Linked DNA regions of Homo sapiens. The protein of the gene in region 1 purifies or fractionates together with the protein of each later gene. This does not show direct contact. Each region holds a gene or a part of one and is shown on either strand. Other genes may lie near its edges. The genes, in order: GRPR, PANX1, ASPHD2, USP30, FNDC3A, RAB3B and CDS1.

What was found.
Region 2: the proteins of GRPR (region 1) and PANX1 purify together in Homo sapiens (affinity purification with mass spectrometry; 2 studies listed by BioGRID and IntAct, with this or other methods). This does not show direct contact.
Region 3: the proteins of GRPR (region 1) and ASPHD2 purify together in Homo sapiens (affinity purification with mass spectrometry; 2 studies listed by BioGRID and IntAct, with this or other methods). This does not show direct contact.
Region 4: the proteins of GRPR (region 1) and USP30 purify together in Homo sapiens (affinity purification with mass spectrometry; 2 studies listed by BioGRID and IntAct, with this or other methods). This does not show direct contact.
Region 5: the proteins of GRPR (region 1) and FNDC3A purify together in Homo sapiens (affinity purification with mass spectrometry; 2 studies listed by BioGRID and IntAct, with this or other methods). This does not show direct contact.
Region 6: the proteins of GRPR (region 1) and RAB3B purify together in Homo sapiens (affinity purification with mass spectrometry; 2 studies listed by BioGRID and IntAct, with this or other methods). This does not show direct contact.
Region 7: the proteins of GRPR (region 1) and CDS1 purify together in Homo sapiens (affinity purification with mass spectrometry; 2 studies listed by BioGRID and IntAct, with this or other methods). This does not show direct contact.

What each region holds. Positions count from the first base shown.
Region 1 is NC_000023.11:16,121,679-16,126,626, forward strand, and holds the start of GRPR (gastrin-releasing peptide receptor), read left to right. Parts: upstream 1-1,886; 5' UTR 1,887-2,275; coding exon 2,276-2,688; intron 2,689-4,948. UniProt on the Homo sapiens protein: Receptor for gastrin-releasing peptide (GRP). Signals via association with G proteins that activate a phosphatidylinositol-calcium second messenger system, resulting in Akt phosphorylation. Contributes to the regulation of food intake.
Region 2 is NC_000011.10:94,131,273-94,135,788, reverse strand, and holds part of PANX1 (pannexin-1), read right to left. Parts: intron 1-4,516. UniProt on the Homo sapiens protein: Ion channel involved in a variety of physiological functions such as blood pressure regulation, apoptotic cell clearance and oogenesis.
Region 3 is NC_000022.11:26,441,995-26,446,138, forward strand, and holds the end of ASPHD2 (aspartate beta-hydroxylase domain-containing protein 2), read left to right. Parts: intron 1-464; coding exon 465-578; intron 579-1,102; coding exon 1,103-1,212; 3' UTR 1,213-2,687; coding exon of another isoform or gene 2,688-2,700; 3' UTR 2,701-3,021; downstream 3,022-4,144. UniProt on the Homo sapiens protein: May function as 2-oxoglutarate-dependent dioxygenase.
Region 4 is NC_000012.12:109,083,291-109,086,780, reverse strand, and holds part of USP30 (ubiquitin carboxyl-terminal hydrolase 30), read right to left. Parts: intron 1,829-3,490; coding exon 1,708-1,828; intron 1,115-1,707; coding exon 850-1,114; 3' UTR 1-849. UniProt on the Homo sapiens protein: Deubiquitinating enzyme tethered to the mitochondrial outer membrane that acts as a key inhibitor of mitophagy by counteracting the action of parkin (PRKN): hydrolyzes ubiquitin attached by parkin on target proteins, such as RHOT1/MIRO1 and TOMM20, thereby blocking parkin's ability to drive mitophagy.
Region 5 is NC_000013.11:49,195,674-49,200,189, forward strand, and holds part of FNDC3A (fibronectin type-III domain-containing protein 3A), read left to right. Parts: intron 1-1,203; coding exon 1,204-1,317; intron 1,318-2,051; coding exon 2,052-2,201; intron 2,202-2,308; coding exon 2,309-2,592; intron 2,593-2,688; coding exon 2,689-2,901; intron 2,902-4,516. UniProt on the Homo sapiens protein: Mediates spermatid-Sertoli adhesion during spermatogenesis.
Region 6 is NC_000001.11:51,906,901-51,911,161, reverse strand, and holds the end of RAB3B (ras-related protein Rab-3B), read left to right. Parts: 3' UTR 1-3,206; downstream 3,207-4,261. UniProt on the Homo sapiens protein: The small GTPases Rab are key regulators of intracellular membrane trafficking, from the formation of transport vesicles to their fusion with membranes.
Region 7 is NC_000004.12:84,644,996-84,649,511, forward strand, and holds part of CDS1 (phosphatidate cytidylyltransferase 1), read left to right. Parts: intron 1-226; coding exon 227-330; intron 331-3,561; coding exon 3,562-3,691; 3' UTR 3,692-4,516. UniProt on the Homo sapiens protein: Catalyzes the conversion of phosphatidic acid (PA) to CDP-diacylglycerol (CDP-DAG), an essential intermediate in the synthesis of phosphatidylglycerol, cardiolipin and phosphatidylinositol.

The DNA.
Region 1 (4,948 bases):
TGTCAACACTTAACCTTTAAAGATATCGTCTTTTCTGGAGAAAAGGTAGTTGCTTCACTCCAGAGAGGGGTTGGGGTCTAAAGAGCTGTGAGAGTACACATCTTCATGCTATTTTTCTCAGCCTCTTGCTCAGTGCCTGGCAACTGGTAGATGTTTGATAAATTTTTTTCAAGTAAATAAAGGAGTTGCTAATTCACTCGTATGAGTGCTTGCCTATTGATCTGAGGTCAATCACTCTTCTGAACTCATTGGGCTTTTCCAAAGTAAGCCTTTCCCCCTCAATCTAATAATGATAATAATAATAAGTGCTAATATTAATTGAGCACTTACTATGTGCCAAATACTATGCAATCTTAACATGAATCATTTCATCTAACTTCATAAGTTCTCCTCACCCTGCAGATGAGGAACCTGAAGCTTAAGACACTAAGTAACTTGCCATAATTATAAATGAGGGAGCCAGGATTGAAGCAGAGCCTGTGTACTGTATCATTAAGCTATATTGCTGGCAACTAATCAACACCACTGGGCTCATGGCTATTGGCTGGTTACTGGTGCTACTGATCTCTGCCGAGAAGCTCTTCCACCTCTAGCCATGCAGCATCAGTCTCCCTCCTGCTGGCAGAGAGGGGCGCTGAGCCTTTCATATTTACATAGAAAGCATGGCAGCAGCCTCAGTGTTGGAACCTGCCACTGGAAATGTCCATAACAACACAGTTGGGGGCTTTCTTTGTGGGCCCTGGCATGGTAAGTGCAAGTTTTGTTATTCCTTATGGGTTCTGAAAAATGAGACTTCACCTGTTAGTGACTGGCTTCACGTCATGTACCTGGAGGAGCTGGCTTCACATACGTCATAAAGATGCACTCTAATAATGTATTTAGAAGTTGTTGGCTAAAGGTCTAAGCCTGATTCTAATAGCACTTCCTCAATTAAGCTTTTTCTAGCACTCCTTCAACGATAACTTACTTCTTTTACCACCCACTCAATTCCTCAGTATTGTATCTATCACGCTTTTATAGTTCTTTATTTTCCACACAGGGCTATAAAGAGGATATTTGCTATAAAACATGGCAAACATTCAATTAAAAATGCAAATAGCTGCATCAAAATGCCGATTCATAAAATTTTTAGATCAGATGAGAAAAGACCCATTTTTCTGGAAAAGACTATTGATCATTGAGAGTTAAGAATACAGCTGGTTCCCAATTTAATTTCTCCCTGGTAAACAGAATAGGAATGGCTTGGCAAATCTACAGGAAAGAACATGTGTGCATTGTGCTTCTGGCTTTTCCAGATGTCAGTTGCTGAAGGTTTAAGGTGTGAGTCTGTGCATGTGTTTCTGAGGATCAGTCCCTGTTCAAAGAGGCAGTGGGAAGACTGAGTGGGATAACTCACACATGGACACCCTGTGCATCAGTGTGCGTTTAATTCAAAGACAGACCTCATTTGATAGCAATATTGACATGTCATTCTAATGAATTAGAAAAAATGAGAAAATGGGATGTAAATCCCCATCTGGATTCATGGGGATAGTATCAGAAAGATTTTCAGTGCCTTTGCAGAATGCTAGCAACATTTATTAAATACCTACCCTAGGTGCTATGTGCTTACATGAGAAGCCAAAGGTATCTGTTAAGCTAGGTAGGAACTGCAGTCGGCTGGTTGCTTCTCATCTGGAGAAAGCAGGCAACTGGGCAGTGATTGAAGTGTCCAGCAGGGGGCTGGCATTCTCTGTCTATAAGTAACACTGGTTCCTCTTCAGAGCCTCAGCTCAGCGGAGCTGCCGTTTGCTGGTGAAGCCCGTGACGTGCAAAGCATCCTGCCTATAGGATTTGAGGATTTCTCAGTGCAGTTTTTTTCTACCCACTTTAAACCTCCAGATTCTAAATATCAGGAAAGACGCTGTGGGAAAATAGCAGGCCAAAAGTTCTTAGTAAACTGCAGCCAGGGAGACTCAGACTAGAATGGAGGTAGAAAGAACTGATGCAGAGTGGGTTTAATTCTAAGCCTTTTTGTGGCTAAGTTTTGTTGTTGTTAACTTATTGAATTTAGAGTTGTATTGCACTGGTCATGTGAAAGCCAGAGCAGCACCAGTGTCAAAATAGTGACAGAGAGTTTTGAATACCATAGTTAGTATATATGTACTCAGAGTATTTTTATTAAAGAAGGCAAAGAGCCCGGCATAGATCTTATCTTCATCTTCACTCGGTTGCAAAATCAATAGTTAAGAAATAGCATCTAAGGGAACTTTTAGGTGGGAAAAAAAATCTAGAGATGGCTCTAAATGACTGTTTCCTTCTGAACTTGGAGGTGGACCATTTCATGCACTGCAACATCTCCAGTCACAGTGCGGATCTCCCCGTGAACGATGACTGGTCCCACCCGGGGATCCTCTATGTCATCCCTGCAGTTTATGGGGTTATCATTCTGATAGGCCTCATTGGCAACATCACTTTGATCAAGATCTTCTGTACAGTCAAGTCCATGCGAAACGTTCCAAACCTGTTCATTTCCAGTCTGGCTTTGGGAGACCTGCTCCTCCTAATAACGTGTGCTCCAGTGGATGCCAGCAGGTACCTGGCTGACAGATGGCTATTTGGCAGGATTGGCTGCAAACTGATCCCCTTTATACAGCTTACCTCTGTTGGGGTGTCTGTCTTCACACTCACGGCGCTCTCGGCAGACAGGTAAGTACAGGCTGAAAGTTACATGCTCTCCAAGGGTGATAGACGCCTGGGTAAATGAACTACCATGTCGGGACAGGGAGCTGATTGCACAAGGGAAGTTTTACTCAAACACGGATTCCCTTCCAGGCAGGTTTTTATTCTGGGTATGACTTCTTGAGTGTAACATATTGGTTTAAGAAAGAAAAGTGAATGATGGGGACAGAAGGAGACAGATGAGAAAAAAAAAATCTCTAAGCAGAAAACTGAGGTGCCTTTTTCTGGAGACATATCTATTTAGCATTGCCTTTTCCTAACTTCTCCCTCCTTGCAAAATTAATTGACCAGTGAGAAAGACAATCACACCCAATAGAGTTTAAACCTCAGGCAAATGTTTTTTAGGAGCAATTGAAACCCCTCAGAGAACAGGAAAGTTCCACTGGATTTCTTCAAAACGTTCTTTCAGAAATAACCAAGAGGAGAAAATAAGCCTCATTTCTCTGAAATTCATTTTCCTCAGACAGTTTAACTTTTCTCACAGCTGATTTTGAATTTGACTCTCTGTGATAGAACAATTGTATGCCGGTTTTCCTAAGTCTCTCTTAAATGAAATCAAACATTATTTGAGTTTTTAAAATTTTCTGGAGAAAGCTCTATTCAAGGTTGATTTCTAATTTTAATATCTTTATTGACAATACTTCATATACCATGCTTTTGGGGCTTATTGTGGGGAGGAAGAGGGAGTTCACTACAGTTTTTTATTCTGGGAAATATACATATTTGCAAACTGCATTTCTTGTGTGAGCACATTGCATAAAAGTTTACGTTTATTCAGTCTTAAAACTATATATTCATTCTTTGAACATTTATCAAGTGTCTAGCATGTAAGAAACACTTACCTGAATTAGCAAGTCAAGAAATAGCTGCAGGTTGTTCACATAAATTACTGAACATACTTTATGTACTTCTGTGTTCTGGAAATTGGACATAGTAATGAATAGACTTTCAGACACAGCATAGACCATATGGTCAAACCCAGAAAAACTGCTGCAATGAACCTAGACTATAAATTTTTCACTTATAATCAACTGTATGTTATGTGTTAAAGATACAGAAGGATTTGAGAGTGTTCTGGAAAAGACATAGATGCTGCTCTTGAAAGTTTATACTCCGAAGAAAATGTCCCACATTTTAATACATGTGGTGCTGGATTCTCATTTTGTAGAGGAACAAACAGTCCTCAGGTGATCTGGCTTTGTTGAGTAATGGACAAATAAAGATAGTGTTATCAGTATTTATAGACATGTGTTTATGCTTAGCTACCTGAAGCACACTGCCCAGCACACGACATTTTCAAAGTCTGAAAAGTAATAGCACAGAAGTAAGGTTTGCACATTGTACCGACTGGACAGAGTTTCTCCATTCCCTCCATTCCCCTTCGGCTTGCACATCCTCCCCTGCACATCTGCCCACAGATACCAATGACCACAGACAGTTTCATGTATTGATTCAGGGCTGGCAAACTCTGGAGCTGGCAGAAGGGCTGTGGCTTGTTACCAATGGCCGAGGGCTCTTCAGGATGAGGGTAATTTTCTTAATGGGAAGGAGAGATTTTGGTTTCCGGGTTGGTGAGTGCAGTGGTACAGATGGTGTTTACTCTCTTCTTAGGGAGAAAAACAGAAAGGAAAGTGAGGGCATGAACTGTAAAGATGCAGCTGCAGGGAACTCTTCTCTGGAGTTTCAAAGCAGACCAAGTTCACCATCAACAGAAAGGGAAAGCTCTTTCAAAAGCCAGGTTGCACTCCTTCGCGGCTCCAGTGTGTTCCCAGTAAGTTTATAGTTACTGCCTGTCCTTGCCAAGTTCAGAAATTACTAGAAGCTCCCATATAGCTAACTTTTTGTGTTTTGCTAAGTCTTTAAAAAGCTGATGGATCACCTGAATCACAGGTAGTGCATCTAACCAATTCCAATAGAAAGAATAGGTATTGAGCTAAATGATTAAGACTGTACTTTTTTTCTATTCATCTCATTTTTGAAAACAATGGGATTCTTCTATCTTATATCTCTGAGGTTGGCAGGGCAAATATATATTCTATATTATTTTTTCTTCTCAACAAGGTGTAATCCATATACACAGTAAACTGAACAAGTAACAGCTCAATATATTTTTACATATGTCTATAGAACTGCATAACCAGATGGAGATATAGAACAGTTCCAGCATCCCCCAGAGTTTCTCTTATGCCCTTTCCTAGTTAATACCCCCATACAGAGGCAATCACTA
Region 2 (4,516 bases), on another chromosome or scaffold:
GGCTGCACAAAGTGTCCACCTACCTTCAGCACATAGTGAAAGAGATTTATGAATCCTTTACCATGATGATGTATTTAGCTACTACTTGTACAAGAAAAATATTAACAAAGTAAAACATGTATCCAACAGTAGACTCTCTGGACAGCATGCATCCTTCTGGAGGGGTTAGGAGTCTCTCTTGGCTCTTTGGTTTAGTGTGAGTTGAAGATGTTCTATTATAGGACCTATGCCATGAGACCCTAAATATTGGCCCACTCTGATAGACAACCCTGAAAAGAATCGATCTGCTTTGCCAGCTGGTACATGCTAAAAAGCAGCCTGAAGATATTCCCAAAGACAGGTCTAAATTCAGCCACAACAGAGCAGATAACTTAAGCCACCCAGCCGCTGACTCAGTTGCAGGAAATGAAAGGGGAACTCCAAGCAAACTATATTGGAAGCAGCTGCAGTTATATCTATCCTTTGACTCACTGGGGCTGGCCCAATGCCTGCCCTGTAATGATAGCAAAAGAGCAGTGCTAACTCAGAAAGACTAAGTCCTTCTCTACCCAGAACGGTGGCTGCCCACTAAGAGGTCAGTGGGTGAGGGAGGCAGGGTCCCCGGCTGACCAGACACCCTTTCCCTAGTAGACTACTGGCTGCCCCAGCTCCCCACCTGGTCCAGCCAGCCAGAAACATCCTGGCAGGAGACACGGGCTCTCCTTCCCAGGGGATATGTGCCACATGAGGCACCAGGGAATCAAAGCAGCCCCTGACGCCTCAGGCCTTGTACAGCCCTAAGCGCAGGGCACAGGAGGCCCTGTCAAAAGACCCCTTAAACATGAATCCCATTCAGAGTCTGGTCTGTTGATAGTTTTGTCTTCAACCAGGCTGCTGTAAGAAAATCCCACAGACTGGGTGGCTTAAACAACAGTTATTTTCTCACAGCCTGGGAAGTTCAAGATCAAGGTACCAGCAGATTCGGTGTCTGGTGAGAGCTCTTTTCCTAGTTTGCAGATGGCCCCCTTCTCCCAGCGTGCTCACACACCTTTCCTTGTGGCCGCACTTGTGGAGAGAGGAAGAGGGAAGAAGAGAGGAAGGGGGGTAGTGGGAGAGAGAGGGAAAGAGGGAGAGAAGGAGGAAGAGGGAGGGGGGAGAGGAAGAGGGAGGGGGGAGAGAAAGAGGGATTTCTTCTTTTTCTAAGGGCATCCCATCATGAAGGTCCCACTCTCATAATCTCATCCAAACCTAATTACCTCCCAAAGGGATCTCCAATTAGCATCACATTGGGGATCAGGACTTCGACATATGAATTTTGCGGTTGGGAGACACAAACATTCAGTCCATAACTGCAGCACACTAAGGGAATTCATAACTTTAGAGAAATACTTCTAGAATTTCAGAGCTTGAAGGTCACGTCATGCAATCATGCTTATATTCTACACAAAGCTGTCGCCCAGCCATTTCCTAAACCTCTCCCCCCATCAATGAAATGTGCAGCACTTCTAGAGGCATCTGAGAGTAGATGTGTTAGAAATGAAGGGCCTCAAGGCACTGTCTCCCAGCAGCTTGCACAAGGTGACACCCATAGGGTACCCAAGCCACACAGATCACACTCATCCTTCTTCCACAGTACACCATTCTGCACTCTGAACACAGATTCTTCCTCATCACAAAAATAACATAAAAAAGAATCTGAGGCACACGCAATATAACCTGAGCTTATAAATCAAGTGGGACAACTTACCTATCATGACGATGTGCATCCTTTACTGCTATCATCAGAGGCAGGTGTCTGGGAGGTGGCCAGGACAGGCCTGACCCAGGACAGCACTTGTATCATTAAATGGCACTCAGAGGGCGCACTTCCAAGCAACTGGGACCCTTATCCAGAACACTCCGTCCATTCCCTCAGCACAGCCACTCTGGGAGAGTTCCCTAGTGTGCTCTGGCACTTCCTTCACTAAATTCCTATGGAGCACTTGTTGAGGGCAAGACATGGTAGAAGACAAGAGGAAGGAAAAATGAGGGCTGGTGAAACCACTGATTCTCCCTTCTCTGGCTCCCACCACACAGCCTTTCTAGCCCAAACTCACAATTAAACTGTCTTTTGCTGTGTGTCACTTATTTTCCCCCTACCCAGCTGAATCTCAGAGGAGGCACACCTGCAGTATTTTAGAAAGGCTGACTAGAAGTATCAGGCCTAACCAGACAGGTGCACATTTTAGTTCTTACATTCAATCCTTAGTATCTCACTGTCCAAAAGCCTTCAAAATGCTCCCAGGCACAACTCAGAAGAGTCTCCTTGCCACTCCCTCAGGAGGGTTTCTGCTTGTAATTCTCACTATCACAGGGCACATCTGGACCAATGAGTGGCTGCCGCAAAGACTACCAAAGTTGCCTCCACCTTGACCATGGCACCAGCCTTGCCATGCCCCTCCAGACCACATCACTTCTGCAGTGACCCTCAACCTGTGATTGTGGGCAGCCAGACCAAGATCTGGTGAATGAGCAAGGCAGAGTCCCTTCTGCTCTCTGTCCCCAACACAGTCCCCACCAGCCCAGGTAGCCCCACACCAGTGCCTACCATGCAGGACCTGCGTGAACTGCTGTGGGAGGGAAGGGGCCAGAACCTCTGAGGAGTGGACGCTTCACCTGCAGCCACCATGCTGGCACCCAGCAGGGCTTGATAAAGATCAGCCTGCTGCTATGCCCATGGGTCTCTGTGGCCCAGGCAGGCTCAGTCCCTCTTTTCTGAGAGGAGCCCAGTGGGCTGAACTACTAAGAGAAAAGGCCAAAGACCAAACGGAAGCCTTTAATATGAAGCCAAGTATTTTATCATATGAGGACATTCCCTCTCTCTAACCTACAACACTCCCACCCCCACAGAGAACCTGCTCTTAAATCTAAAGCACAATCCATGCACATTTCTTGATTTAATAGATTTTCTTTAAAGTAAAAAATCATTTATTTAAAGGAAAAATCGCCACAAAGTTTCAACTTGAACCCTATTTTATCAAACAACAGTTGACAGAAAATTTAATTTTTGGAAAGTAACTGGAAAATATAATTTATTTTACGCTTGAGGGGATTTTATATCAAAAGAGATGAATTCTTATATATACTAGTTTATCATACAGGTGGAAAAAGGAAAAACATGTAATTACAGCTGATTTTCTCGTTTCTAATTTTATACACACACACACCACCCCCCCAACACAAACAGGAAAACAATGGGATTTGCTATGCCTTCTTTCATGTGGAGCCCCTGGACCCTTACTTTGGCTCCCACCTCTCCATGTGACGGTGCCACTAAAGCTCCAGCAGCCACATGTTGTCTCACACGTCTCAGCTTCAGCCAACACTGCTCCACACACTTGGAATCCTGCCTCAGGGGCCAACTCTGCCCTGAAACTCTCACTGTTCATGAGTCAGAAGAAACCCCTCCTTCTGCCTTTCCACAGCATCAGGCTTTAGTACACACTTCTGACACTGCCCAGGTTCCATGAATCCTGCATTAGGAGGGTTATGCGTTCAACTTCTCTACTAGACCGTGCTTCCAGAGGAAAGATTCTTATGTCCTACGTGTGTCTGACACCCCATTGCCAAGGTACAGCATCATGCACATAACAATCAATTAGCAAGGTCTGATGATGCCAAAAGCTATCACCTTTAATTCACAACAAATGTTTATAGAGTAGTTTCAATCTCCATGCAAAACATGCATAGACAGGTTATAAAGCTCTGTGTTAAGTTCAACAAAAGAGTATTCCAAGCACCAGAGAGGGAAGCAGTAATTATCAACAGAGGAAGGATGAAGCCATGTTTTAAGTCTGCAGGCCTTATCTCAGTGTCTTCCCGGGGCCTGAGTTCACTGGCCAATATGGTGGGCAAAGTGCCAGCTCCATTTCAATTACTTCATTCTCCCTTTATTGCTGTTCTTTTTTTTGGTTTGTTTTTGGCTGAGTGCATACTACTAACTACACAAAATTAAATGCTGCATGACATGATCCCTCCCACTGTACCAACTCCATGTATTAATCTATGTACCTCTCCCCTCTTCTCAAAAGCCCTTCTTCTGGTTTTATCTAAATGTATACCTAATCTAATAGGTCTTCCCTGGTCCTGTTAGCTTCATCCCACATGTCTGTCCTCCCCTGGAACTCCTGAAAACACTTCAGAAAACATGGGAGTCTGCTTGACAGCTCCTCACCCAAGTGCCTGCCAACCTTCACCAGCCTGGAGCTCATAGCTCAACACCTGGCTGGGTGCTGAATTACACACAGCTGAATGACTTACCTGCTAACAGATACCTTCTAGTGCCCAACTGCATAGTAAACTGCCACAGGGCAGGGAGAGGGCAGGGCAAGAACAAGGTCTCAAAATCCTTTCCCATCTCCCTCAGCACACAACAGTGCTATGCACACAGCATGAGCTCAAACTCTTGCTAGTTAAAACCACTCCCAATACCCCAAAAATACCTCTCAGACAGCCCACCAATTTAGACGTATCTAAGGCATTACAGGTACAGGTGCCT
Region 3 (4,144 bases), on another chromosome or scaffold:
ACTCCGGAGGCTGAGGTAGGAGTATCATTTGAACCTGGGAGGTGGAGGTTGCGGTGAGCCGAGATCACACCACTGCATTCCAGCCTGGGCAACAGAGAGAGACTCCATTTCAAAAAAAAAAAAAAAAAAAGGGAAAAGAAAAAAAGATGCAAAAGGAGGTAAAGAAGCTCCCTTGGGCCTGTTTTATAAGGATGCTGCTCCCATTAGGACCCCACCTTCATGATCTGATCACTTTCCAAAGGCCCCACCTCCTAACACCATCACCTTGGGGTCAGGTTTCAACATGGGAATTTGCAGGGACACAAGCCCACAAGCCTTCAGACCATAGCACGGGCTCCAGAGGTGTGAGGCAGGTCAGGTGCTTTAGAAGTCAAAAACTCTCAGTAAGGCAAATCACCCCCTATCTCCTGGCCTTCCCTGAATCTTGCCTGCCTTCACTCTCCTTTCTCTGGTTTTCCTACAAGGTCTGAAAACTCCAAATGGCTGTGAGCTGGTGGTGGGGGGAGAGCCCCAGTGCTGGGCAGAAGGGCGCTGCCTTCTCTTTGATGACTCTTTCCTGCATGCTGCGTTCCATGAAGGTGAGTGGCTGCCTTTCCCACTTCCTTTTTTTCAATGAATAGACTTTTATTTTTTTAGAGAAGTTTTAGGTTTCCAGAAAAATCAGGCAGAAAGTACCAAGGAGGCCCCTTCATATCACCCCATAACACATATACACACACAGTATTGATGCGTTATTATTACCTAAAGTTCATGGTTGACATTAAGGTTCACTCTTGGTGTTGTCCATCCATTCTGTGGGTTTCGCCAAATGGATAATGACACGGACCTACCATGACAGTATCATACAGAATAGTTTCACTGCCGTAAAAATTCCCACTTAAAGATCCCTCCATCTCCCCATTTCCTTTTGTCCACCCTGCTCAGAAGCCCATGAAGCCAGGTTTATGCTCTCAGTGAGAGAGGAGGTGGTCCGATCCGAGCCGAGGGACAGGATGGGGTCCCTGCCCCGAAGCTGAGCACGTAGGGTCCAGCCCTGCCTGGATCCTGGGTCCTGACTCCAGGGTGGTTTGAACCTGTCCTCTCACCCCTCCTTCCCCCCCAGGTTCAGCAGAGGATGGCCCACGGGTGGTTTTCATGGTGGATTTGTGGCATCCAAACGTCGCAGCGGCCGAACGGCAGGCTCTTGATTTCATCTTTGCTCCGGGACGATGAGAGTATTTCCCATGCTGGAGTCGGCGAGAAGGGCCGAGGCGGGGCCTGGGCAGACTGTGGTCCGGTCCAGTCCCTACCGGTGTTGTTTCCATGCTCAGAAACCTGCCTCAGCGGAAAGCTCTTATTTGGGATTTTATATCATGTCGGGTCCCTCTTTCCCTTGGTTATTGTAAATGGAAACTTTTCGGCTTGTATTTCCTTAGATTTTTTTTTTTTCCTTCCAATCATTTGCTTCAGAGACTCCTTTCTGGCCTAACAGCGCATTCCTTTGATTGGTCCTTGAGTGACCAGAGACTTAGTGCCCTTGTAAGTCTGTCTTCTGTTGCTACTTGTTTTTTTCAGTGCTCTGAAATAGAGTAACTAAATGGTTATTTGTCTGAATATAATAATGTAAAACTTCTTGTGGTCATCTTAAAAAAAAAAAAAAAAAACTAAAAACTGCAAACCAGAGAGCTAGAGAACTTGGCCTCTGATGCTGGCACACTGGGGACCCTTCAGCCACCTGACGGCAGGGGGACAGTCTGCAGCCCCCACACCTGACTGGCTTCAGTAGCCAGGTGGAGGGGCTGCCAGACACAGTCAGGGTGGCACACAGTGTCCAGGCCCAGGGATACTGTCACCATCGCTCACCTCATTCTAAACCTTGTCAGGTCCCTGATGGCAAAAGCATTGGGCCAGTAGGACTGGAGGCTACTCTTTAAACATGGCTTTCCTGCAAAGCTGAAGCTGGTGTCCCCCAGCACCAAGCTGCGGCTCACACAGATCAGCCACGGAACGTGTGATCCGCTTACCTCACTGCCTACAGAAGCCCTACTGCCAAACTGGGCCTGGAAAATTCCCAGTTTTAGGTGTTTTGAGTCCACAGTGATGAACGTTAAGGCCACCAGGTTGGCTGATAGGAGCTGTAGGGGGATAGGACCGCGCTCACCCAGCGACATTTGGGGAAAGCCTTTCTCTGGCAAAACTGGAATAATAGATCTGACCAAAGTTTCTGTTTTGCTTTGGAGTTCTGTTGCCTATGTTTTTTTTTTTTTCATTTATTTGTCTGTACATAAATGTTCAAACACTAGACTTGGAGATAGTGGAAGAGTTGGCCCTGTGTCTTTGTCATGGCACAAAGGTGTGCACTGCGTGACAATGACCCAAGCCAGTGTGTGCTAGTGAGGAGACAGAGAAGACCTACATGCCCAGAGGACCCGTGGCCGTTGTGCTGGTTTTCTGGTCTCCTGTGAAGAACATGTGGATCTCTTCCCGAAGGAAAAGGTCCCAGGAGACCAGTTTGAGGCACTCACTCTAGAAATAGCCTGTGTTAGCTGATGTGTGAAAGCGTAGCCGGCCAGCCACACTAGAGATGCCTTTTCTGAATAATGTATTATGAGCAGTGTCAGATTTATAAAGCCGAGGAGTGGTTTGGAATATACAGCTGGTCGCAGGTGCAGGTCCAGTGTTTAGATCCAAATGGAAAACAGCAGCTTCTAAGAGGTACAACTGTTGGAAGAAAACACAGTTGAAATGCACCAGGCAGGTACTAGCAAGTGTGCAAAGAGCACGTCTACATTTGAGTAAAATGTCTACACAGATATTTGTCAGTGATGAGAATGCAGGAAAAGGCAGACATTTCAAACATACCTGAAGTCTTTTTACTCATTATCTTGTTAAAGAATCACTGAGGTGCATGATTTCTACACATCGTGACTGCTCTGCTCTGCGTTTACAAAACCAACAGCCCGCGCAGGTACCTAGCTACCTGCATTCATGTGACATGTCTGGGGAACAGAAGATAAATAAAGGATCTTGCTGAAAACCAGAGTGAAGTGGTGAGGTCATCTGTTGTAAAGAAAGACTTAGGCCAGGCTCGGTGGCTCACGCCTGTAATCCTAGCACTTTGGGAAGCTGAGCGGGGAGGATTGCTTGAGCCAAGGAGTTTGAGACCAGCCTGAGTAATATAGTGAGGCGTTGTCTCTACCAAACAAACAAACTAGCTGAGTGTGGTGGTGCACACCTGTAGTCCCAGCTATTTGAGAGGCTGAGGTGGGAGGATCACTTGAACCTGGGAGGCGGGGGCTGCAGTGAGCCTAGGTCGCGCCAGTGCACTCCAGCCAAGACGACAGAACAAGACCCTGTCCAAAAAAAAAGACTTGCTAGGCAGAAGGGGGCAAGTGACTTTGAGGCTCTTGTGTTTTGAGTGATGTCACAGAGACAGGCGGGTCACTAGAATTGATCGTGGATAGTGAATGAAGCAAAATGTCCCAAAGCAATGGGACTAGTGGGGTGGGGACAAGAGCACATCTAGGATATGTTAAGGAGCAATAGATGTCTAACTGGGCAAAGAAGAACAAGGACCCTGGCTTCAGAAAAGCTGAGGATTTAGGACTCCGTGCCAGGAGTTTGCACCCTCGGGACCTTGGGCAAGTCCCTTAGCCTCTCATAGCCTCAGTTTCTCCTCTGTGGGTATGTGCAGTATCTGGCACATGAAGGGCACTCAACAACCTTGTTTCCCTTTCTGCCACAGCTGAGTAGAGAAACAGGTGAAGAGGAAGGCCGCCAAATGGAAGAGATGGGAAAACACATCGGGACAGCAGTGGGTGTGGCCAGAGAAGCCAGTGGCTACTTTCAATTGCCTGTGTCTAATCACAGAGGAAGAAACATGTCCCTCAGTAGCTGTGTTTTTCATGTTTTTCCCTTTAGAAGAGAGGGAGACAGGGGGGTCTCCCAGCCAGGAGCCCTAGAAGCAGCCGGGCTGCCGCATGTTTCCACCTGCAAGCGAGGTTCCAGCCAGCTGTCCGGGCTGGGCTGCCACAACAAGCGGAAGGGAAGAGCGCCACTCACCTGGGATCGCGATGTTTCTCACCCTCCTCAAGTGTGCATTGCCAGCTAGGCATTGCTAAGCTAATTTACGTGTTGTAGCTCTGGAGGCTCAAGGTGAGAAAGG
Region 4 (3,490 bases), on another chromosome or scaffold:
TAAACAGATGAAAGTAACCGTCCACAGTGGATCCTTGTGTAAGAAAAAGTTTTCCACAGAGCAGAGGAATCAGGTGTTGCAAAGATCCAGCTCAGTTCTGGCTATTCACAGAGTTTTATAATACAGTGTAATTACATCTCAGTCCAATATACAAAAGATAAAAGCAACAAGTAAGCTCTTCACTTATAACTGACAAAGTAGTGAAAGAGTTTCCCCAGGGGGCAGATTTGGCAGATGAGCCTTTACTCCATAGAAAGAATTGAAAGATTAGAAAAGGCATAGAAAAAGGAAGGTGTTCTTTAGGCATCATTTACCTGTTCTCTTGCTATCCTTTGAGTAGCCTGGAAGGAATATTTCACAATGGACGTGCTACAAAAGCAATCGAAAGTGAAAGGCACTTTTTCTTCTAAATTGTTGCCTTTAATAATTTCATTAATTCTTGTCAACAATTTTTATGGGCCTGCTTATTAAAAATAAAAGATCTAAGTGGAAACGTTGATTAGACAAAGGTACCTCCCCTCTGAGAACACCTAACATTACAATATGAAAACGGTGGCTTCAAGAATCTGAGTTCTTTTAATTACCTGTATCAGATGAGTAAAAAGACACTCCGGACATAATGAATGCTTTCTTAACACAACAGAACCACCTACACACATGAACAGGACTGTTCAGGGAGCCTGGTTTGGTGTGAACTGGGGCTGGCTCCCAGGTGGAGCCTGCTCTTAGAACACACCAGAAGGCTGGAAGGCTCTAGTGGGGCCGCTTGCACACGCAACAGTACAGTTTTACTTTTTTCCTGGACAGTGCAGACAGTGCCATCAGCTCTAGCCTTGCAGGAGGGCACAGTCATTCTTCAGACTTGCACTCCTGGCTCTGGTGCTGCATCCTGGAAAGGACGCGCTCGTAGAACAGCAGGTAGGCGCTGGAGGACAGGACCTCCTGCAGGCTGGCCTTGCGGACAGTGTCATCGGAGACCCACAGCCACTGATTGCTAGTTGAGAGAGGGTTCCTGGCAGAAGGTGGGGACCGTCGGTAAGTGACAAAGTGTCCAGAGTGCATGTCTCCATGGTGGACGACAACTGCCATCAGCCGGAAGAGGTATGTGGAGGAGCTGAATGATACGAACACATGTCAGGGGTTTACAATTTTAACAAAAAGACTTTATAGGCAAAAACAAAAGAATGCTAATGTTAAATAGGGGATGAATACAATGGTAAGTCCATACCACCAAATGCTACACAACTATTAAAATACAGATCTGTATTTACTGGCATGGCAAGATGTACATTCTATGAGTATATGTATATTGTGTATATGTGGATGTTTGTATCAATGAGTGTATGTGTTTATGTACACTATATGTATGTGTGATGTACAACTTTATAGAGTGCATGACCCTAAGTGTTTAATTGGCTATCTCTAGATGGTATCCCAAGAAATTTTAAATTTTCTTTATATTTTATACATACACACATATATACACACATACATATGCATATGTAAATTTTATGTACTTTAAAAATTTTTAATTTAAAAGTTATTTCCATTTTGGACAAAAATAAATAGGAATGTGTAATCGTGAAACTTCACCTTAAAATGAAAAATAAACATCTATATTTTCCTTAATTCATTTCTGTGAAAAGCTAATTTTAGAAGCTAAGAGCAGTGGTAGCTCTAAGATGGGGCTTGTAAAGGGTGGCTCACCTGTAGTCGGGAACAACTGGGAGAGGGAAGGGCATCGGCGCTGACAGCGTTGGCAATAAAGATGGGGAGCAGGCGCCATTCATAAAAATCTGTGTTTTGGGGGCCCCTGGCTGATTCAGAACTGCAAGAGAAAAAGGCCCGAGTCAATGAAAATTAGCAGTGGCTCTGTAAACAAAACCTGGTTTTGATTACCTTGAAAGTTAACTCCCCATAATGCTACAAAGAAAAAAATCTATTTCATTTGGTATTATATAGATTCATAAAATAATCTGCCCTTTATCCTTAATCTCAAATAGGGATAATCTGTCTTAATCCCAAATAGGAAAAGTGTATCTAGCTCCAGCTTTACGGCTAGCCTGGGATCTTTGAGCTTCCTAGCCCTGTTTGCTAATGCCATGTATCAAAGTTAATCAGTAGCTAATTTACTGGCTTTTGACCTAAACCAAGGTTTCTCAACAGCAGCACCATGATGGTTTTGGCTGGATCATTCTTTGTTGCGGGGGCTGTCCTGTGCATTAGAGGATGTTGAACAGCATCCCTGGCCTCTACCCACTAGACACCAGTAGCACCCCTCCCCCAGTAGTGATAACCAAAAATGTTACCAGACACTGCCCAATGTCCCTTGGGAGGCAAAACTCCTCCAAGTTGAGAACCACTGATCTAAGCATTCTATTTGCTTTAATTCTGTCAGCTTCTAAGGAATACCAACGTGTAATAGCATTCATACATGTTTATGGGTAGACAACATAATTAAGGCCATATTTACATGTCTTTTCCTTTCAAGTGTCATTTTTGGGGGCTGTTATGTACCAAGTAGTTTCCTGATGACATTTTTTGTGTGTGTTTTAGACAGGATCTTGCTCTGTTGCCCAGGCTGGAGCACAGTGGTGTGATCACAGCTCACTGCAGCCTCAAACATCTGGGTTCAGGCAATCCTCCCACCTCAATCTCCCAAAGTGCTGGGATTGCAGGTGTGAGCCACCACGAGTGGCCCTACTGCTGGCATCTTTAACCACAGCCAGCATGCTCTCAACATTAGTAAACCTGCACCCCAGCCCAGGAGATGGGGAAGCTGGGGTGCAGAGGTCTTTGATTTAAAACCAGGGCCAAGGACTGAACCAGAGTCTGTCCCCTACCTCATCTCTTTTCGATGTTAATCTAGTGACTTGATGAGAAAGAGGAAAACACAATCTCCCTGACATGATGAGGTGTCGGGCCATGCAACTGTGGTCATAAAAAGAACAAAAGGAGTAAGGGACCCTAAATAGGAAAGTATGGGGTGTGAGACAATCCTGACCTAACTGGGGGCAGCAGACAGGTGGTGAGTTCAGGCTGTGAGCCCTTCAAGTGAGTGGGTTTTCCTCATGTCTAACTCTAAAGAACTCAGTGTGTCACATGAGACACCTTTAGAAAATGGCCCAACATGGCATTCTAGGGCCAGTTCTCCTGTGTGGTGTTTGCCCTTGGACCAATCATTCAACCCCGTGGAGCCTCCATGTTCTTATCAGTAAGACCGGCGATAATAGCTACCCGGCTTAAATGAGACCTCAGCTGAGGGCAGTAATGGAATCAGATACATAATTCAGTACAGAAGGCATTTCAACCCCCAGAAGAGGCTCAGTGATCTTTAGCCAGGACATGTCCTCCCTACATTTCCTCTACTGACAGGAAATGACATGACCGAAAAAAGAAATTCACTGGAATGATGTGAGCCAATGATTATATCATTTAGCGGAAAAATTAGAAGGCAAAGCTGCAATTTTAAGCGTTTCTCTCTGTACTT
Region 5 (4,516 bases), on another chromosome or scaffold:
TAAAAATAAATAACTTGGAATAATTTTAATATTAAATATTTGTTAACAACTGAATGTTTCCATAGAATTTTCTGAGAAGTTGAGTTTCTTAGAGTTTTCGTAGCTGGCTGGGCCCAGTGGCTCATGCCTGTAATCCCAGCACTTTGGCTCAAGCAGTCCTCCCTCTGAGACAGGAGGACCACTTGTGCCCAGGAGTCTGAGACCAGCCTGGGCAACATGGTGAAACCCTGTCTCTGTAAAAAGTAGAAAAATTAGCCCAGCATGGTAGTGCACACCCGTAGTCCCAGCTACTCAGGAGGCTGAGGTGGGAGGATGGCTTGAGCCCAGGAAGTCGAGGGTGCAGTGAGCCATGTTTGCACCACTGCACTCCTGCAGTCTAGGTGATGGAGCCAGCCAGACCTTGTCTCAAAAAAAAAAAAAAAAAAAAAAAAAGAAGTTGAGCTAGCTCTTAAAGATGGGCATTTGGCAAAACTGCCTGATACAGTGCAGTAACAAGTAGGTTTACTTCTGACCATTATAATGATGCGCCACTGTTAAGTGAAAATACCAGTGTATTGGGGCTTTTCTTTTGCTAATGAGCTTTGAAAAATTGATGACAAGAAATTTCTGTAATTGTTCTCCTATGTGTCGGGGAAGGAATTTGCCAATACTGAATAAAATTTTTTATATTCCGGGTAATGTATGTTAAAAGTAATTATGAGAAAGTGAGCTTTTTAGCATGGAACAGAAAAATCAAATTCTGTTACAAAATAAACAAATTTATAGAACAGAATGTTGGTAAAATTTGATATGGAATATGCCTAAGAAAGATTCGTGAAGTATTAAAAAATTAAAAATAATAATTTACACCTACCATCTCCCGTACCTTTAATTAGTATCAATTTCTTCACTCCTTATATTTCTCCTGAATTATTCCACCGACCTCATTCCCTAATGTCCTGCCCTTCTTACAAAAACCATTTCCTGAAGAAATAAGGGGCAGAAGAAAGTATAGGTAAATGAAACTTTAAAATTTCTCACACCTTTACTTTCATGATTTTTAAGTCTTTTTAGTTAATGTGAATACTTATAGAATTATGACCAAATTAATCTTGAAACACAGGGAAAAGACTTTATTAATGAATCTTTAAATATGCAGTTCTGTGCAATCAGTGGACATTTAAGGGTGAAAAATAAAAACACTAGTTACATTTGTTTTTCTAGTTTGGACCATTTTCAGAAAAATGTGATATTACTACAGCCCCTGGGCCACCAGATCAGTGCAAGCCCCCTCAAGTGACATGTAGATCTGCAACTTGTGCACAAGTGAATTGGGAGGTATTGTAATTTCCATTGACTTGTATCTACTTTCTTAAGTGAATAGAATAGTTTATATAAAAGAATAAAGATACTGTTCATTTTTACCGCCTATATTATACAGAGTAAGCCCTAGTTTAATTCACATGAAAAACAGTGACTTCTTTTTCCTCTTTGAAGAATTTGAGTAAGGTATATTTGCATTACAAATATTTAGATTCCTGTTCATTATGTGCTTTGTATTTTTATGAATGGCTTTGTCTCAGTACTGAGATATTTCAGCCACTGTAAGTTTAATGTTCAGAATAGACATACACAGGAATTAGTAAATTCTATTTCTCTTATATTTATCCAGTACACATCTCCAGTGTACTTATTGTGGATAGTAATAATCAGTGATGATAATTATTATATTTTCAGTTCCCTTTGAAATTTAACAAAATGTGTGTATGCTTTTAACATTTCATATTAATAGAATTATCTTGAAACATATTTACCTTAAAACACTCTTTCTAAAGTGACTTAGTCATATTTCTACTTCTAATTCAAAACAGTTATATATTTGACCAATCTTAAATTCAGATAATCTTAATGAATAAAAAATGTAAAATTGAACAGTTTTGATTGTGCTTAAAAGTTTTAAAGAAACTCAAAAGCAATCTAGTTTTACATGTGCTCAGGTAAAGAGCATTTTTGGCCAAAAGCTATTTAATCAACATCAAGACTAAGACCTTTATCCTTTTCTTAATTTAAAGGTTCCTTTGAGTAATGGAACAGATGTCACTGAATATCGACTGGAGTGGGGAGGAGTTGAAGGAAGTATGCAGATATGTTACTGTGGGCCTGGTCTCAGTTATGAAATAAAAGGACTTTCACCAGCAACTACCTATTATTGCAGGGTCCAGGTAAAGATGATCAGTACCTTGTCACTTAACTCTATCCAGAGTTTTATATTTCATTGGCATTTTCATGGTCATGACTTTGTTAACTCGGAGGCTCTGTTAATTTGTAGGCTCTGAGTGTTGTGGGTGCAGGCCCTTTCAGTGAAGTAGTAGCCTGTGTGACTCCACCATCAGTTCCTGGCATTGTGACCTGTCTTCAAGAAATAAGCGATGATGAGATAGAAAATCCCCATTATTCACCTTCTACATGCCTTGCAATAAGCTGGGAAAAGCCTTGTGATCATGGTTCGGAAATCCTTGCCTACAGCATAGACTTTGGAGATAAACAATCCCTAACAGTGGGAAAGGTTACAAGCTATATTATCAACAATTTGCAACCAGATACAACATACAGGTATACTCTAAAAATTATGTTGATTTTTGCCTAGACCAGAGAGACGCTTTAAATAAAACAATCATAACCAAACTTTTTTTCTTATGTGGCACTTAGAATACGAATTCAAGCCTTGAATAGCCTTGGAGCTGGTCCTTTCAGCCATATGATAAAATTAAAAACTAAGCCTCTCCCTCCTGATCCACCTCGTCTGGAATGTGTTGCCTTTAGCCACCAGAACCTTAAGCTGAAATGGGGAGAAGGAACTCCAAAGACATTGTCAACCGATTCTATTCAGTACCACCTTCAGATGGAGGATAAGAATGGACGGTAGGTTTTTTTAATTGCTTCTTTATATAGTTTCTTAGGTCTTAAGTATATACATTTCTGTAACTATTAGAAGTAGGCCAGGTGTGGTGGCTGACACCTGTAATCTCAGCACTTTGGGAGGCTGAGGCAGGCGAATTGCTTGAGCCCAGGAGTGCAAGACCAGCCTGGGCAAGACAGTGAGACCTTGTCTCTAAAAAAAATTTATTTTAATGAAGTAAGTTTTCAAAAACGAAGTCAAGATTGTCATACAAAAGTGTGCTGTTTTTAAAACGTTAGAAAACACAATGTACATTTCCTGTTTATAATTTGTGAGTGGAATACCAAGAGAAAAAAATAAGTGGGCTACTGTTTGGTTGTTTTCTGTAATCCATTTACTGTTTTCATGATAGTAAAAGACACCTAATCTTAGATACAAAATAAACTCTTCAGTGTTTATTTCTAGCAGGACACAATTTTTTTTTTTTAAGACAAGGTCTTGCTCTGTCACCCAGGCTGGCCTCCAGTGGCACTATCTTGGCTCATTGCAACCTCTGCCTCCAGGGCTGGAGCCATCCTCCCACCTCAGCTCCCCAAGTATCTGTGACCACAGGCGTGGGCCACTACACCTGGCTAATTTTTGTATTTTTAGTAGAGATGGGGTTTCACCATGTCGCTCACACTGGTCTCGAACTCCTGGGCTCAAGTGGTCCTCCCCGCTCAGCCTCACTGAGTGCTGAGATTACAACTCATGAGCCACTGTGCCTGACCGAAACAATTTTTTTTTTTTTTTTTTTTGAGACGGAGTCTCACTCTCACCAGGCTGGAGTGCAGTGACGCGATCTCGGCTCACTGCAATCTCCGCCTCTCAGGTTCAAACAATTCCCCTGCCTCAGCCTCCCAAGTAGCTGGGACTACAGGTGCGCACCACCACGCCCGGCTAATTTTTTGTATTTTAGTAGAGGCGGAGTTTCACCATGTTGGCCAGGATGGTCTCCATCTCCTGACCTCCCGATCCACCTGCCTCGACCTCCCAAAGTGCTGGGATTACAGGCGTGAGCCACTGCACCCGGCCCTGAAACAATTTTATAGTAAATGATTATGATCGTTCCTGGCCTCTGAGATCCTTGAGGGCAGAGATTATGTTTCAGTCTTTTCCAGATTCCTGACACAGGGCCTGCACGCTAAATGAATACAGTTCAGTTTTTCACTGTGTGATCTCAGTTAGATTCTGTGATTAATTATCTAGTCCCTTTGCTAATCACTGTTGCTAATCTTTGCTAATCTTTGAATTAGAAAGAACCTAATTTCATTCAGGTTCTTTCTGTGCCTCTTTCACATCTTCATGTACATGTTGTACTATTCCTATATAATGTGCCATATACTGCCACACTAAATCATGTATTTTAATTACAGTGTTAACTCTGAATATTTGTAACAGTCATTCTAATGCCAACTAGGGCTATTTATTCACATTATATTCCATATAAGCAATGCCACATACCTCCCACAGCTGTTAATCCTTTAATATTTTAAGAATTTTGAATTTTGCTTTTCTACTTTTCACTGAATATATTAGAAACAATTTCCAAATCTGATGGACTCAGAATACTAGTAACAGTTTTTCCCAAGATTTACT
Region 6 (4,261 bases), on another chromosome or scaffold:
CTTCCCAGGTATCCAGCAGGTAGACAAAACAGCTAACTCCACTGCCACTCCTTTCTCCACATCCGTTCCTATTTCTCAGCCATCTCAGTGACATCCGCCATCTTGAGAGTCAACTACTGACTGGACTGAGTTGTGTGGTATATGCTTCTGTTTACTTCTCTTCTGTCTTTTTTAAGTGGCCAAATAGCAAACGCTTAAATAGGAAATCTCTGGGAGACTTGAATAAAAGACTTTGCTTGGTAGAAAATCATGTCACAGAAAGGCTAATAGACAGCAAAGTAAATCAGCAAGTCCCTGAGCAGTAGGATTAGGATTCCTGTCTCCTTTCAGATTCAAATGCATCTGTTTCTGGGGTTAACAGTGGACTGTTAAGAGGCTGTGCAGCTTGGGTTAAGTCATTCTTATCTCTGGGCTTCAGGAGCTTAGACCAGATAGTTTCTACAGGCTCTCTTGGTGCTGATGCCTTGGGATTCTGTGGCTGTTTTCTGTAAGATCTGCAAGGGGGAAACAGGATTTTGGCAGCAATCCTTTCATTACTAAAGCTTCCTTTCTTTTCGGGTACAGTGAAAAGAGCCAAGGCTGTGTGACCCCCTCATCACTTAGCCAGGCGTATGGTCCTGGTTTCTGAGGCTGCCAGAAAGCATCTTAGCAATTTGTGTTTGGATGGTCCATGCCTGACTATTCTAGGCTGGAGGTTCCTAAAGAGTAACAAGAGGAAGAGAAACAAGAATCTCTGACACTTGTTGAGAATAGAGCACAGTCCCATTTGTTTGAAAAGAGACACCAGGCAGCCATGTTTATGTGCCAGAAATGCATTCCACCTCAAGGAGGACTTAATTTATGGACCCGTGTGTGCCAGGCTGAGCTGGGCAAGATCTTTCTCAGGACAAACTCTGCCATGCAGCTAAAAGCCTGGAAACTAAAGGATTTCATGTAGTAAACTATCTTCCAACCCCTGTAGACATCAGACCACAGGATGAGGTTTCAGAAGGTCATAAGGCAGAATAGTTAAGCCTACAGGGCTTACAGTCTGACAGACCTGGGTTCAGTTCTTGGGTCTTCATCACTAGTTTTGTGACTTCGGGAAGATGACTCCCGGAGCCTCAGTGAGCCTCAGTTACTTCATATGTAAATGAAGTAATACTATCTACTTCACAAGGCTGTTGAAAGGATTAAATGGAGAATGGGTGTAAAACCCTTAGTGCAGTGCCGTGCACACACAGTAGATGCCGAACGTGTGATGTTGGCACTACACAATGTGTAATCCCAATCAGGCAGAGCTAGGCAGGCAAATCTAATCCAGGATCTTTGTAAGGGGACTGAGAACCAGAGACTGGAGAAAGCCAGTGTAAACACCATGAGCAAAGGAGCAAGAGAAGGGGCATTGTGTAAGTAGGAGATGGAGCTTGAACTTACTAAGTGGATCAGGGTAGAAGAATCCAGTCAGGACCAAGGGAGGAGAGTCCAGGAAAATGCCATGAGCAGCTCTGTAGCATGACCTTGTTGGGCTGGGTTAAAGTAGGGTCTGCCACCAGTCATGTGACAGAAAGGTACCTCATGCACTTCCTCCTTCCCCCAGAAATCAGCCTCCAGGAGTGAGGAATGAGCCCAGAATGAGAGTTTAGAGTGCTCCAGAGCCTTTGTTAGAGGTGCCCTCCGACATTCAGAAAACCAGGATTCCAGAGACCTGGGTTTGAGTCCTGACTTTGCAGCATACTAACTGTGTGATCTTGAACCAACATATTTTCACCTAATGAGGCTGACAATCTTCCCTACTTCACAAAATAGTTATGAGAGTCAAATAAAAGTACATTTTAGAAAGTGAAATGCTGTGGACATTTAAGGTGGAGCCACTGTGAGAGTCTAGGGGGATAGATGGTATTCGTCTCAGAATGAAACGAATACACCCCTCTCAGAGCCCTTTCCAAGGATCCCCTCCTTCTTTCAGCTCCTTCCCTCCACCTCAATACACACTCCTGTCCCAGGAACCTAACCTCATCTAGAAATACCAGGGCCAGCATGCCTTACACCTAGAGGTTTGGTTGGCTTCAGAGAAACTTCTGGAGGCTAAAAGCAGCCAAGAAGAATCAGCCACTACATGCTGGGCCTGGATGAACAGAGCAGTGAGCTGTGATGGGGCTGGGGCTGGGGCCCAGGAGGAGCAGGCAGGAGAGTTTGTATGCACCGTGATTCAAATATTATAACAAAAATCATCGATCATGTGTTAGGCACTTTACAGTTCCCAAAGCACTTTCCCATCCATGCCCTGATGATCTTTGACACAACACTGTGATGTGGGTTTTATTATTTCCAGTACAGATGAGGAAGACTGAGGCCTGCATCAGTGAAGCAACCTATCCAAGACTACATAGAGAAGGCAGTAAATGGCAGGGTTAGTCTCAGAACAGGGGAGGGTCTGTTCCCCCCGCAGTGGGCAGTCCTAATTCTGAACTTCACCTATCTGGGGGTGATAGAGGGGAACAAGAGGAAGCCTGCTGAAGAGAAAACCTAAACATCTGTTTTGTCTACGTATGACTTCCTCTGCTTGTGGGAGAGAAGGAAGGAAAGGAACACATTGTTGTCAGCCCCACAACCCCAACAGAATTAAACCCTGGAGCAGGTTGAACAGCAGAGGCTTCCCTCAGATCAAGGAGCCAGGAGCAGATGATCTATCTCTGTGGCCACACAGAGAGATGTCACCTTATGCAATTTGCATATCATATTCAATTCCCCCAACTGCTCTTTCTAATTTATTCAACTGGGGACCAGGCTGGTCTCATGCCAACCTAGGAGATGTACCATAGCAGTATGAGCAGAATTCCTCAGGAGGAACAATTAGCAAAAACTGCAGTTGCCTCTCGATAGGCCTGAGCAGAGAGAGGAACAATAGCTCTCACGTCTCTCCTCATCAGATTCTAACTAAGCAGATGTTCTCATGCTTTTTTCTTCTTCCTATGTTCTGTATACTGACACCTCTTCTCAGTGGCATATGAAATATGAAATGTCATGTGTTGTGAGTTTGTATAAATATAAAGGAATATATATACACAGTAGCAAAAGAGAAGATCTCATTTACAAATATCTATGGTGTTTCCTTGTTCTGTGTTGATCTGTTTTATTGATACAAACTGAATTTTCTTAATGTATCTTCTATCTCTATTATAGTGGCAATGATGGTATATGCATTAAAGTTCTTCTGAATTGTGTATCATTTGTAGAGTGACTCTTTCCTGAGTTTGTGCTAAGAACTTTGGGCAGAGGAGGCTGGGCGCAGTGGCTCATGCCTGTAATCCCAGCACTTTGGGAGGCCAAGGCAAGTGGATCACTTGAAGTCAGGAGTTCAAGACCAGTCTGGCCAACATGGCAAAATCCCATCTCTACTAAAAATACAAAAATTAGCCAGATGTGGTGGTGGGCACCTGTAAATCCCAGCTCAACTGGGGAGGCAGAGGCAGGAGAATTGCTTGAACCCAGGAGGCAGAGGTTGCAGTGAGCCGAGATCGCTCCACTGCACTCCAGCCTGGGTGACAGAGTGATACTCTGTCTCAAAAAAAAAAAAAAAAAGAACTTTGGGTACAGATTCTTGCATTCAGAAATCTTTAAGAGGAACTGGGAAACAGGTCCAGCACCAGTGCAACAAAAGACACAATATGATGCAATAGCTCATGATGGACTCAGGAAAGGGGGAGATCAGGATGGACTACAACAGTCAGGGAAGGCTTCATGGTGAAGGAAGGACTGACATTGCAAGAGGTCAGGGAATGCCTATTAGTGTGCACTTCTGGAGACCTGCTGGGCTGTGGCTCTGTGCTAGGTGGTGTAGAGGTTGCAGAGAATAACAAGGGGCAATGTGTGCCTCCCAGCAGCTTAGCTCAGTGTTAGCTCATAGCAGAGATTTAAGATACACTGCTGGATGGCACGTGGGAACAAAGCTGCTGAGCTGGAAAGTAGAGAGCCCACAGGAAAATGAAACCAAATGTAGACAGAACTGGCAGCCCCAGGAAGGGGCAGAACCTGCTCCCTACCCCCACCTCTCCTCAAAAAGTTTAATGAGTCTAAGTAGGCGGGATATTCAGTCCAATTTTACACCTATCTCCACCATGATGTGCTAGGAAACCTTTCCCCTTTCTTAGCCTAGTTAACTCCTACTCATCTGCCAGGACTCAGGCATGGAGACCCTGGTGGGCCAGGGAGGACACAGAGCTTTGGAAGCACAGAGCAGAGATAACGGAGGTGTCAGAGATGCATTCAGAGATTGGAA
Region 7 (4,516 bases), on another chromosome or scaffold:
ATGAATGCTGTGGGTCAATTCAGAAATCATTCTAAAAGAAGCATGTATTTGGAAGATGTGGTTTTAATCTGCTGGATGTGTTCTAATAAGTTTTTATTTAGTGAAAAAAATCCAATAGTAATGTATTTTCGTTAGAGTGAGTCCATGACGCCAAAGAGACACAGATAGGAATTTTATAGCAGGTGATTTTTTGAAAATTTGCTAATATATTTGTTTGTTTCTAAAGGATTTTGCAAATACCATTCCTGGACATGGTGGGATAATGGACAGATTTGATTGTCAGTATTTGATGGCAACTTTTGTACATGTGTACATCACAAGTTTTATAAGGTACTTTTACACTTGAGACATTTTTTAGATGATTTCTTTGAGTTCTCATTTCCATCAACATTAGTTTGAGTAAGTTAACTTTTTCCGTCAATGGTAATCTACAATATTAAAGTGAATGGTGGCCCCTGGAATTAGAGTCTTGAGCAAGATGGTTAACTTGTAATTGTTTTACCTACATTTGAACAACTTAAAAAAAGATAGTATTTGTCATGGTCCTGGACCACATTGAAGACCCAATTAATGTGGATGGTATAGGATTTGAAACTTGAGGAGATTTGATTTCTCAACTGTGGGCATTGCAATGATCATGAATACTAAGAGTTAAAAAGGGAGATAACGAAATGCATCCAGTCTACCAATTATTACTTGAGTGCCTGCCATATTGTAGAATGTTCTAGGGACAAATATGGCAGAGAACAAAACAAACCAAATCTCTGCCCCCATAGCTACTTGTTTGGAAGTTGAAGAAAGAATGATGAGAAAGAGACAATAAACAAATAAATATAGTTTGTTAGATGGTTGTAAGTGTCACACAGAAAAATAAAGCAGGCCGAGGGGATCATGCCTGTGTGTGTAGGGGCTGGCTGGTGGATGGGTGGATGAATATTGCCATTTTAGAAAGGGTGGTTTATTCTTGTTATTAAACCTTAATGTTTTGGATCTGCCTTGAAATACCAGTGTGAGTGTGAAGGCTTAACATCAACTGCATGTTAACTTTATTTTCTGTGGTCTCTACTGGGGGCCCAGAAGGCAGAATGCTTATTAATAGTACCTGAGCTGTAGAAAACATGGATTTCCTTCATAGTACTTGGAAGGAAATTCATATTTAGCAATCCCTAAATACACATTTTAAATATGTACCACAGTAGTGTGAGAATTTTTATATTAACTATTTTTGAGAGACAGTCCTGATAGCGAGTTTATCAATTTCATTAATCTTTTCAAAAATATCAACTCCAGGCTTTGTTAATTTTCTCTACTGTAAATTTTTTACCTCATTGATTTCTCCTCTCATCTTTCATTTCTCTGCCTTTTTTAAATGTTCAATATGCTGTTCTTTTTTTAATTCTGGAGATAAGCTTAGATTATTGATTTTTAGCCTTCTTATCTAATTTATCCATTGAAGACTATTAAGTATCACTTTATCCTCTTCCTGCAAGTTGTGATATTTGTATTTTCATTATTTACATGTTTTCTGATTTCCAGTATTATATCTTCTTTAACACATGGGTTATTTAGAAGCATATTCATTAGTTTTCAAACAAATGGAGATTTTTTCACTTTCCTCCCTTAATTCCACTGTGGTCGGAAAACATACTCTATGATTTGAGTATTTTATAATTTTTGAGATCTATTCTGTGGTACAGCATGTTATCTATTCTAGTACATGCTCCATGGGCAAAGGTGTATTCTGTAGTTTTGGGTTGTAGTTTTGTCTGTGTCAGTTAGGTGAGGTTTAATTAAATCTTCTGTACTGATTTTTGTTTATTTGTTTTTGTGTTTGTTTGGTCCGCTTGTTCTATCAGTTACTAAGAGAGCTTTGTTAAAGTCTCTCATTGTGATTGTAAATGTATTTTTTTATTTGTAGTTCTACCAATTTTTGGTTTATATATTTTGAGGTTGTATTAGGTATGTACAAATTTAGGATTGTCATATCTCTCCATTGAATTGATCCTTTTGTCATTATATAATGTCTGTCTTTACTGCTTGCCTTAAAGCGTACTGTGTTGAATATTAAAATAGCAATATCAGCTTTCTTTTGGTCAGTGTTTGCATGTTATTTCTTTGTCTCTCCTTTTATTTTTAACATTCCCTTTTCCTTATATTTAATGTGTTTCTTTTTTCTAGTAAGCATATAGCTGATTTTTTTCCCTGTTTTATTTATAAGACAGTTGATAATCTTTATCCTTTTAATGGGACTATTTAACTTATTTGCATATTATTTATTGATCTATTTGGGTATTAGTAATTAGTGGTTAAATCCTTAAAACTTTGTTTTCAGAATATGGCAGCTTTTTAGGGCATTAACTCATATGCTTTCTTTAAAAAAAAAATGCTGTCCTCTCAGTAGGGAGGTGTCATGCTGAGCCATGTTGTCCACCATTTGAAAGCAGCTATTTAGACTGTTAGAAGACACTGAGAGTGCCAGGATGCAGCTAGCTGGGAGCACCTGCTGACACAATTTTGCATTTAGCTGAACTTGCTAAAGCAGCCTTCCTTTTCTCTGTTGGTCTCTACTTGGGGTTTATGCTGTGAAGTTGCTGACTCTTTTAAAGAAATGAAATAAGGCGAACAGTGTCCTGACCTGAGTGTGAAAGTTTTTTGGCAGATGAGTTGAGCCACGTGCATGAAGATGACCCTTGGTGGGATGGCTCATCTGGGCTCTTGTGCAATTTGTTAAGTCAAAGATTTTCAGAGTAAATAGTTCCTCTGCTCATCCTCATTGTGGTAACACTAAATAGCAAACATTTCTTTGTTGCTGGGATTTCTACTTTCTATAATTCAATGTGAACAATCTTTACTGTAAGGCATACATTATTTACCCACATAAATGTCTTTCTTAGAATTCTATGCCATCTCTATACATGACTTGTATGTTGCTTTTTCCCATTGGATTTTAAAGCAGATCTGCTTTTATTTTGTTTTTTATATTGGAGTTCACCTAGGACTGTCTTTGAACAAAGTCCACGGCACCTGTATCACTGGTAAGGGGCTTCAGTGCTAGGCTCAGGACTTTTGTGTTCTGACTCTGAATATTCATAACTCCCTGGAGATATTTTTCAACAAAATACCTTTCATCATCTGAAGTTTCTTGGAAGTTAAAAATTTCAATTATATTTTCATGCCCTCTTTTTGGTTTGTCCTATGTTCACCAGGCTCCTTTCCTTACAGAATAGTTTTTGTGTCTCATTCAATCTCAAGATTTGCCATTTATCCCCACCTTTAACTTTGGTTGCCCTTTCAAGAGCTTTTGTAGAACTTAGATCTGCACCCCTTCAATTGACTTACATTGCTCTTGTGTTTTGTGTTTGTGCATTCTTTCTCCCTCTCTGCTGTAACCCTTGACACTAACATTGCACATTAAAGTGAGCTATTATCAAGAGCTATTTTAATTCTGTAAAGATTCCTACTCTACACTTAAAGGAATGGTTTGTTTTAAATTGGAGGTATGTGCTTCACTTATCCCTATTAAAATAACACGAACTTGTCTTCTTTGCCTTTTATCATTAGGGGCCCAAATCCCAGCAAAGTGCTACAGCAGTTGTTGGTGCTTCAACCTGAACAGCAGTTAAATATATATAAAACCCTGAAGACTCATCTCATTGAGAAAGGAATCCTACAACCCACCTTGAAGGTATAACTGGATCCAGAGAGGGAAGGACTGACAAGAAGGAATTATTCAGAAAAACACTGACAGATGTTTTATAAATTGTACAGAAAAATAGTTAAAAATGCAATAGGTTGAAGTTTTGGAGATATGTTTCTCTCTGAAATTACTGTGAATATTTAACAAACACTTACTTGATCTATGTTATGAAATAAGTAGCAAATTGCCAGCAAAATGTCTTGTACCTTTTCTAAAGTGTATTTTCTGATGTGAACTTCCTTCCCCTTACTTGCTAGGTTTCATAATTTAAAAGACTGGTATTTAAAAGAGTCAAACACTATAAAATGAGTAAGTTGACGATGTTTTAAGATTGCACCTGGCAGTGTGCCTTTTTGCACAAATATTTACTTTTGCACTTGGAGCTGCTTTTAATTTTAGCAAAATGTTTTATGCAAGGCACAATAGGAAGTCAGTTCTCCTGCACTTCCTCCTCATGTAGTCTGGAGTACTTTCTAAAGGGCTTAGTTGGATTTAAAAAAAAAAAAAAAAGATTGTCTACTTTTCAAAGAAGTAACCATTTGCCAGGGGAAAACATTCTGCTTTTAGGTAGTTTCAAAATTCAGGGGAGGGAGCCTGAAATTTTTGCCATGATTGGTTTGTTAGAAAGAGCAGGCATCAGACTACTTCTGATAAAATTGTTTGGAAGGTCACGACCTCGCAAAAACTTTTCAAGAGCAACAAGGAAGAATTCTGCTGTGAAGAACACAGTGTACGGATCCTCCGCATATTATCTCAACAGAGGACAGTAGCTCAGGAGGCAGCTTCAAACGGTGACCTGTGGCCTGGGCCATCTCTTCG